2 linked regions of the Homo sapiens genome follow. The protein of the gene in region 1 interacts with the protein of each later gene in a pairwise test. Each region holds a gene or a part of one and is shown on either strand. Other genes may lie near its edges.

What was found.
Region 2: the proteins of SAP30BP (region 1) and RPS6KA6 interact in a two-hybrid assay, tested with the Homo sapiens proteins (one large-scale study listed by BioGRID and IntAct).

The regions. Positions count from the first base shown.
Region 1 is NC_000017.11:75,694,808-75,698,626, forward strand, and holds part of SAP30BP (SAP30-binding protein), read left to right. Parts: intron 1-3,819. UniProt on the Homo sapiens protein: Plays a role in transcriptional repression by promoting histone deacetylase activity, leading to deacetylation of histone H3.
Region 2 is NC_000023.11:84,115,076-84,118,894, forward strand, and holds part of RPS6KA6 (ribosomal protein S6 kinase alpha-6), read right to left. Parts: intron 2,380-3,819; coding exon 2,309-2,379; intron 2,074-2,308; coding exon 1,985-2,073; intron 1,213-1,984; coding exon 1,154-1,212; intron 1-1,153. UniProt on the Homo sapiens protein: Constitutively active serine/threonine-protein kinase that exhibits growth-factor-independent kinase activity and that may participate in p53/TP53-dependent cell growth arrest signaling and play an inhibitory role during embryogenesis.

The sequences.
Region 1 (3,819 bases):
AATGTGTGTGGGCATCAGCCATCTCAGCCCCCAGTTGCTTCCAGAGCCAACTTGTCACTTTTTCTCCCTGTGCCACTTTTTGGAAATAGCTTTATTGAGGTATAATTTACATAGAGTAAGACTTGCCAATTTTACGTGTGCCATTTTATGAATTTTGACAAATGTGTATAGTTGTGTTAGCCCCACCACAATTGTGATACAGAACGCACCCATCACTCCGAAATGTTCCCTTGTGCCCCGACCGTGTTACAGGTGATTCCCTCCCTCAGCCTCAGGCAAGCTGTGATCTACACTCTCCTCACTATAGCTTTGCCTTTCTTTAGAATTTCCTATAAATCAGGATCTCCCCACCCTGGCCCTACTGACACTTAGGGCTGGATGAGTCTTTGTTGTGGGGCTGTCCTGTGCTTTGCAGGGTGTTTAGCAGTGTCCTTGGTCTCTACCCACTACGTGCCAGAGGCACTCTCCCTTCCCCAGATGTGACAGTGATCAATGTCTCCAGACATTGCCAAATGTCCCCTTGGGGCAGAATCACCCCTAGTTAAGAACCAGGGATAGAAAGGGAACTAGTGTTTTTGTCTGGCTTCTTTCACTCAGCACGGTGCTTGCAAGACTCATCCATGTAGTTGGGCATGTCCAGAGTTTCTTTTTGTAGCCAAGTAATATTTCACTGTAGGGATACACCACAGTTTGTTTACTGATTCACCCATGAGGACACAAATGGATCTTTAAGCGGCATCGTTTTGATTACTCACCATTCCTCATTGACGAGTAGCTAGTTTAGTTCCTCTTACTGAAGACGTAATTAGTTGAAGGACAGTGGCTTCCATTCATGATGCAGTGCCTGTCAGCCCCTCTACCTAAGCTTTTGTCCACTCTGGTGTCAGGACTCAGGTTGCTTACCAGGTATGGGAAGTGTGTCCATGCATGTAGACAGCCCCAGCTTTTAGAGAACAAGCAGGAGAGCAGAGAAGCCAAACCACAGGCATCTGCAGCACTGCAGCCCCTTGACAGAGCCGAGCATGCACACCCTGTCTGTGCCCTCCAGGGCCTCGCAGATGCCCACGGCTGAGCCTGGAGCAGTGGTGCTGGTGTGGCAGTGCACGTGGGTTCTCTCTGTCACTCAGGAGCTGGAGATACTCCACCGTCCCCTGGGGCCCCCCAGCTCGCTCACTCCCTGCCATCCCATAAGCCCGTCCAACTAGCTGTTCCTGCACAGATCCCTCCCTGGCAGCTGTGGGTACTCTGGGTGTTTTCTGACTTGGGCACGCACCAGGGCAAGTCACGCTGACAGCTGGCTTCTCAAGTCCTAAGTGCGGCTGCCTCTGAGAACACACCCATCAGACCCAGGCAGCAGCCACAGACCCAGCGCTGCTTCCAAGAGACTGTGGACACATCGCTTTACTGGCTTGAGGCTCTGTCTGCTTACAAGAAATGTGGGGCTCAGCTGGTCGCAGTGGCTCATGCCTGTCATCCCAGCACTTGGGGAGGCTGAGGCGGGCAGATCACGAGGTTGGGAGTTCAAAAGCAGCCTGGCCAGCGTGGTGAAACCCCATTTCTACTAAAAATCCAAAAAAAAAAAAAAAATTAGCCAGGCATGGTGGTACTTGCCTATAGTCCAAGCTACCCGGGAGGCTGAGGCAAGAGAACTGCTTGAACCTGGCAGGTGGAGGTTGCAGTGAGCCGAGATAACACCATTGCACTCCAGTCTGGGCGACATAGCGAGACTCCATCTCAATTAAAAAAAAAAAAAAGAAAAGAAACAGAAATGTGGGGTTCAAGTCTTCCACATTAGATTCATTCCAGGACTCAGAAGGGAGAGGACCACTGAAAGATTGCTTCCAAACTCTGTGTTGTACACTTCTATCTAGTTTTCCCGAATGTGTTCCTTTATTTGCCAGTTACTTCCTAGGAATTATCTTGTTTCAAGCCCTGGACTGAGGAGGGGCTCCCCTCCTCTTTTTTTTTTTTTTTTTTTGGAGACGGGGTCTGGCTTTGTCACCCAGGCTGGAGGGGCTGGAGTGCAGTGGTGCAATCTCGGCTCACTGTAAGCTCCGCCTCCTGGGTTCACACCATTCTCCTGCCTCAGCCTCCCGAGTAGCTGGGACTACAGGCGCCCACCACCACACTTGGCTAAATTTTTGTATTTTTAGTAGGGATGGGGTTTCACTGTTTTAGCCAGGATGATCTCGATCTCCTGACCTTGTGATCCGCCCGCCTCGGCCTCCCAAAGTGCTGGGATTACAGGTGTGAGCCACCGCGCCCGGCCCCTCCTCTTACACTGTACACCATGTGAGCCCCAGAGTGTGGCTGGGTTGCTGTGGCAACAGGGTCACACCCTGTTTTTCCAAAGGCTTTCCTGGCAAATGCCAAAGGGCACTCTTTGTCTCTCTGTCACAAGCACAGATAGGTTCTCTCCAGCCCAGGGAAGAAGTTAACCCTGCTTGTTTATGTGCCTAGCGCCTGCCAAGGCCCTCCTTGCTTTTGTTGTTGCTGCTTGTGAGATAGGACCAGCTCCCCCCAGCTGATTCCACTCTCCACCAGCTTCTGCAACCTCAGCCTTGGCACTTTCACCTATTCCAGGGCTGGGAAGAAGGAGGAAGTTAGAGGAGACTTGAATTCCAGCCATATCTGGGTTTCACCTTTGCTTGAGGAGTCAGGAGACCAAAGGAAGGTGCTGGGCAAAGAGAAGCACCTCGTCTCCTGCTCTTGGGCTGCACTGGCATCTGGGGCCCACAGCAGGACCTCTGATCAATGTATCACCCAGTCTCTGTCCTCTTGCCGTCACCTAAAATGGCAGATTAGTGCTCTGTTCTTGGGGCGCTTCCAGTGAGAATCCACTGACAACAGTGAAAATCAACACATGAAGTCATGTTTTTAGGATGGCCCCAGGCTCGACTCCTGTCTCAGTGTATTTGCAGTCGGCATAGGCTTATCCTGCAGCAGCTGGACTGGCAGAGTCTGGGAGCCTTGTCCCCAGCCCTCCTTGGCACTGTGTTCTTTACAGTAACTGAAACTCCAGGCAGAGATCAAAGCACCTTGTCTACTAAGCAAACATTAACCCAGCATGGGGAGAGGAGAAGGGGCTGGCTGTGCGAAGCCAGCCGGGCAGCTCAGCAGTGGGTTAGCTGGGGCCTGCACACAGTAGGTGCTCAGTAAGTGCTTGCTGAGTGTTACTGGTGTTTTGTTCATTCTTTCTCTTCATCCTGCCCCACCCTGCCCTGGCTGCTCTTTGCTCATTGTATGATCCTTTTCATGAGAGAGTGTTTTGAAGAGCGCAGACAGAATCTTAACAAATAGCGCATTGTCCCAGCGATCCAAAGCAGGACTGCAGTGCCGGGGTGGCCCAAGGCTGCGGGGAAGAGGCTGGAGAGAGCAAGGCCTGCCGGACAGTGGCAGATCTCTAAGGAAATTGTCCCCTGGGGGTTGTGGTTCTTCCCATCAGAATCAGGCCTTTTGTTCTCAGGAATGAGGTGGGCTAAGAGAGAGTTGATTGGTTTATTTTTAAAAGATCCTCAGCTGATAATGGTAAAAAGTATCATTTATACACAAGGCCATTTTGTTTACTTTGGGACCCAAAACTTAGGGAACCCTGAATTCTGTTTCTCCTGTAGCCTAGGCAGGTCAGCCTTAGACGAGACGGGTGGCCCCAAGCACCTCTGAGTTTCCAAAATCTTGCAAGTATTTTAGAGACATATGCAGTGGTGGCTGGAGCTGGTTTACAGACATATGCAGTGGTGGCTGGAGCTGGTTTACAGACATATGCAGTGGTGGCTGGAGCTGGTTTACAGACATATGCAGTGGTGGCTGGAGCTGGTT
Region 2 (3,819 bases), on another chromosome or scaffold:
AAGCAAATGCAACAAAAACAAAAGTAGACAAATTGGACTTAATTAATTTCCTGCACAGCCAAATAAATAATCAATAGAGTAAAAAGATGACCTACAGAATGGGATAAAATATTTGCAAACTATGCCTCTGACAAAAGACTAATATCGAGATCTGCAAGGTACTCAAACAACTCAACAGGTAAACAAACAAACAAACAAACCTATTAAAAGGTGGGCAAAGGATATGAACACGCATTTTACAAAAGAAGACATACAAGCAGCCAACAAACATGGAAAAATGCTCAATATCACTAATCATCAGAAAAATGCAAATTAAAACCACAATGAAATATGATTTTATATCAGTCAGGAGGGCTTTTATTAAAAAGTTAGAAAATAACAGATGTTGGCATGGATGTGGGAGAAAACAGGTACACTTATACACTGTTAATGGGAATGTAAATTAGTACAACCTTTATGAAAAACCATATGAAGATTTCTCAAAGAACTAATAATCAAAAAAATTTGACCCAGCAATCCCACTAATAGGTATGTACCTAAAGGAAAATAAATCATTATATAAAAAGGACACCTGCACTTGTATGTCTATCACAGCACTGTTCACAATAGCAAAGTCATGGAATCAATCTAAGTGTCCATCAATGGTTAATTGGATAAAGAAAATAGGTATATAGACACCATGGAATACTATGCAGCCATAAGAAAGAATAAAATCATTATCTTTGCAGCAACATGGATGGAGGTGGAGATTATTATCCTATGTGAAATAACTCAGAAAATCAAATATCCCATGTTCTCACTTATAAGTGGGAGCTACACAATGGATACACATGGACATACAGATGGAAATAATAGACACCGAGGACTCCAAAAGGGGAGAAGTTAAAAGGGAATTGAGGGTTGAAAAATTACCTACTGGTCACTGTTTGGTTGATGGGTACATTAGAAATCCAAACCCACCATTATGCAATACATCCACGGAAAAAACCCACAAATGCACCCCCAGATCTAAATTATTTTTTTAAGAAAAAGAAAAATAAATATGTATGTAAATATTCCACTGATTTGTTATTTAGATTAAAAGCAATAAATCTTTAATATCCTGTGTTGGTCATATGAAGTTATTCAATAACAAGCTTTCTACTTAACTTACATCCCAGTCAATATTTGCAAAAAACAGATGTCTTTTGATTTCTTCAACTCCTTCTGATCCTATAAAAAAAAGAAATGATATTTTATTTTTATGATTTTTTTTAGTCTTGCTCCCTGGCTTCCAGACTGCTATCTGTAAACAGGAATACACATATTTCATACATTCCTTGAAAAGAAAAATACATGATTTCTTATCTGGCATTTTATTAGCTGGTCCTTTCATTTTACTGTGATAAAAAATAACTAACATTCATATTGAACTACAATAAAGTGTCTCCCAAATCAAATCAAATAGTATTAAACATAATACTTAAACTTAAATACATATTTTTTCATTCCTAATTTATCTTATGACCTCATATTTATATGCCAAATTGAAAGGTACAAAGGAATAAAGTGACACTGAAATTTTCACACAAGGGCATAAATAATAGGATCGCATCTGGATACAGGGAAAGGCTACCAGAAAGGGGTCAAAAAAGTAGTTACAGAAACATAATATTTACTTTGAAGAATATTGGGGGGGGGCAAAATATCTATCTTCAAATATATAAAAGATTACCTGTACAAGGGAGAATCTGTTTATTATTTCAAAAGAAGTAACCCATAATATATACATAATAATAGGTTGAACAGAAGCTTTCATTAACTAGACTACTTCAGTTTTAAATCATGGACATAACAGAGTTTACTTTGTCTGAAATGCACACACAAAATGAAAAATTCTACGTATAGAAGTAATGTGCTCAAATCAAACAAGAAAACATAAAGATTTAATTATCCTCCCAAAACATGCAGTTACTTCTATAAAAGCTAAGAAAATAAGCAATACCCAATCTATTTGCTGGATTCCTTTTGAATAACATCCTTAGAAGACTTTGTGCTTCAGCACTAAGAAATTGAGGCATTCCAAGTTTTGCTCTGAAACAGAGGATTTTAGAAAGTTTCACTTAAATTTAGCCACATTTTTGATTTGAAAAATCTCAAAAAGAACTTTTAAAAGTGCTTTTACAAGGGTACAGTCCTGTATATGGTAGAAGGGAACAAGACAGTGAGAAAAAGGTACTCTTGTATTATTTTAAAACCGCAATAATTTTTTCAAAACTGAAAGCAAGAGATTTTTTTCCCAAAAGAAAAACATACTGTTTACACTTACTTTAATATCATATTCATGGTCTCATTTCTGTCTTTACCTTGAAATGGCAGAGTACCAGTAAGCATTTCAAACTAAAACAAACAAACAAAACACACCACACAATTAGAACACCTTAGAATATATAATAAGATTCTCTAGAAAAAAACTGAGACTTCTATATAATCATCAAATTGTAAGATCTACATGATAGTAGATCAAAATGGGACCAGAAAACTAGGTCACTTAAAGAAATATACTTCTGGTATCCCACTCTCTCTCTCTATATATATAGCTCAACTGATGGTGACCTGTAGCAGATGAAACCAACCAATTCTTCCTCAGTTCTAATTCGGCTATGTTCTCAAAGCCAAAGCAATTTGAAAATACACACAATGCATTTTCTGTTAAAACAAATATACTCTTTTGAAGAGAATGTTTAATAATAAAGGAAAAGGAAAAATAAGCAGAAAAGCATTTCAAATTCATACATGCCCAAGAAAGATTTAACCATTCTCATTCCCTCCACTGCCCCCAAAACAGGAGCCAAAAAAGAAGTAGAAGCAGCAGAACACACCACCACCACCACCCCCTGCCACACACACACATGCCAATAGCTTTAAAAAAGAAACATACACCTTAGTTGTACACAGAAGAAGGAAAACATTTTCTCAAAGAGAACTGACTGCAATGTGACTAACTAGAACATTAAATAATGGTATAAAAAAAGACTACCTCTAAAAATCATTACGGTACATTAAAGAGAAGTTTTTGTATCACCAGTATTTAAATCTCAAACTTAGATTCAATAATGGCTTTGGCCTTAGTCTTCTACTCATTTATCTGAACTCACAATCTAAGTGAGCTTATACATTCAAGTCTCTTCTGTATCTTAATGTCTCCCAAAATCTGCTGTTCAAGGCTTAATCTCTCTCAAACTCCAGCTTTCCTTCCCAAATCTTAAGTAATGGTACGCCACCAAAGACTGGAGGAGTAGAGGTGAGAACTTCAGGGAGAGAATGAAGGAAGGATCGTATATAGGACTCACATCTTCCCTCAAAGAAACTACACGTTGGGTAGTTAATATATACGTATTAAGGTCTCCAAATGATTCTGATTCTCTCTCCACTACCCCTCCTAGTTTATCACCACCCAGTGGTGAGTCATTAACCTACAGTAACCTATGCTACATGTTAAAAATTATTTTTTCCCACTTCCAAAACCAGCTGTCCTCTTCAGCTATCTCTTCTATTAACTTACCATTCTTTGAACCCCCTAAAGCTCACAAATTTTATAGGCATTTTTATCTTTGACAATTCATTTCTTTTTGATCTGTGTCATCTAATTTGCTACCAAGGTTAACAACTGCTTACTTTGAAATCTCTATAATCTTACAATTGTCTTTAAAGATCTCTTTTGTCTTCCTATTTCTAGTTTCTTCCATTACAATCCACTTACAAGGCTAATCCTCCTAAAATACAATTTTCTCTAATTTCCAGCCTGTTTAAGAATCTAAAAGTTTCCTCCTACCCAGA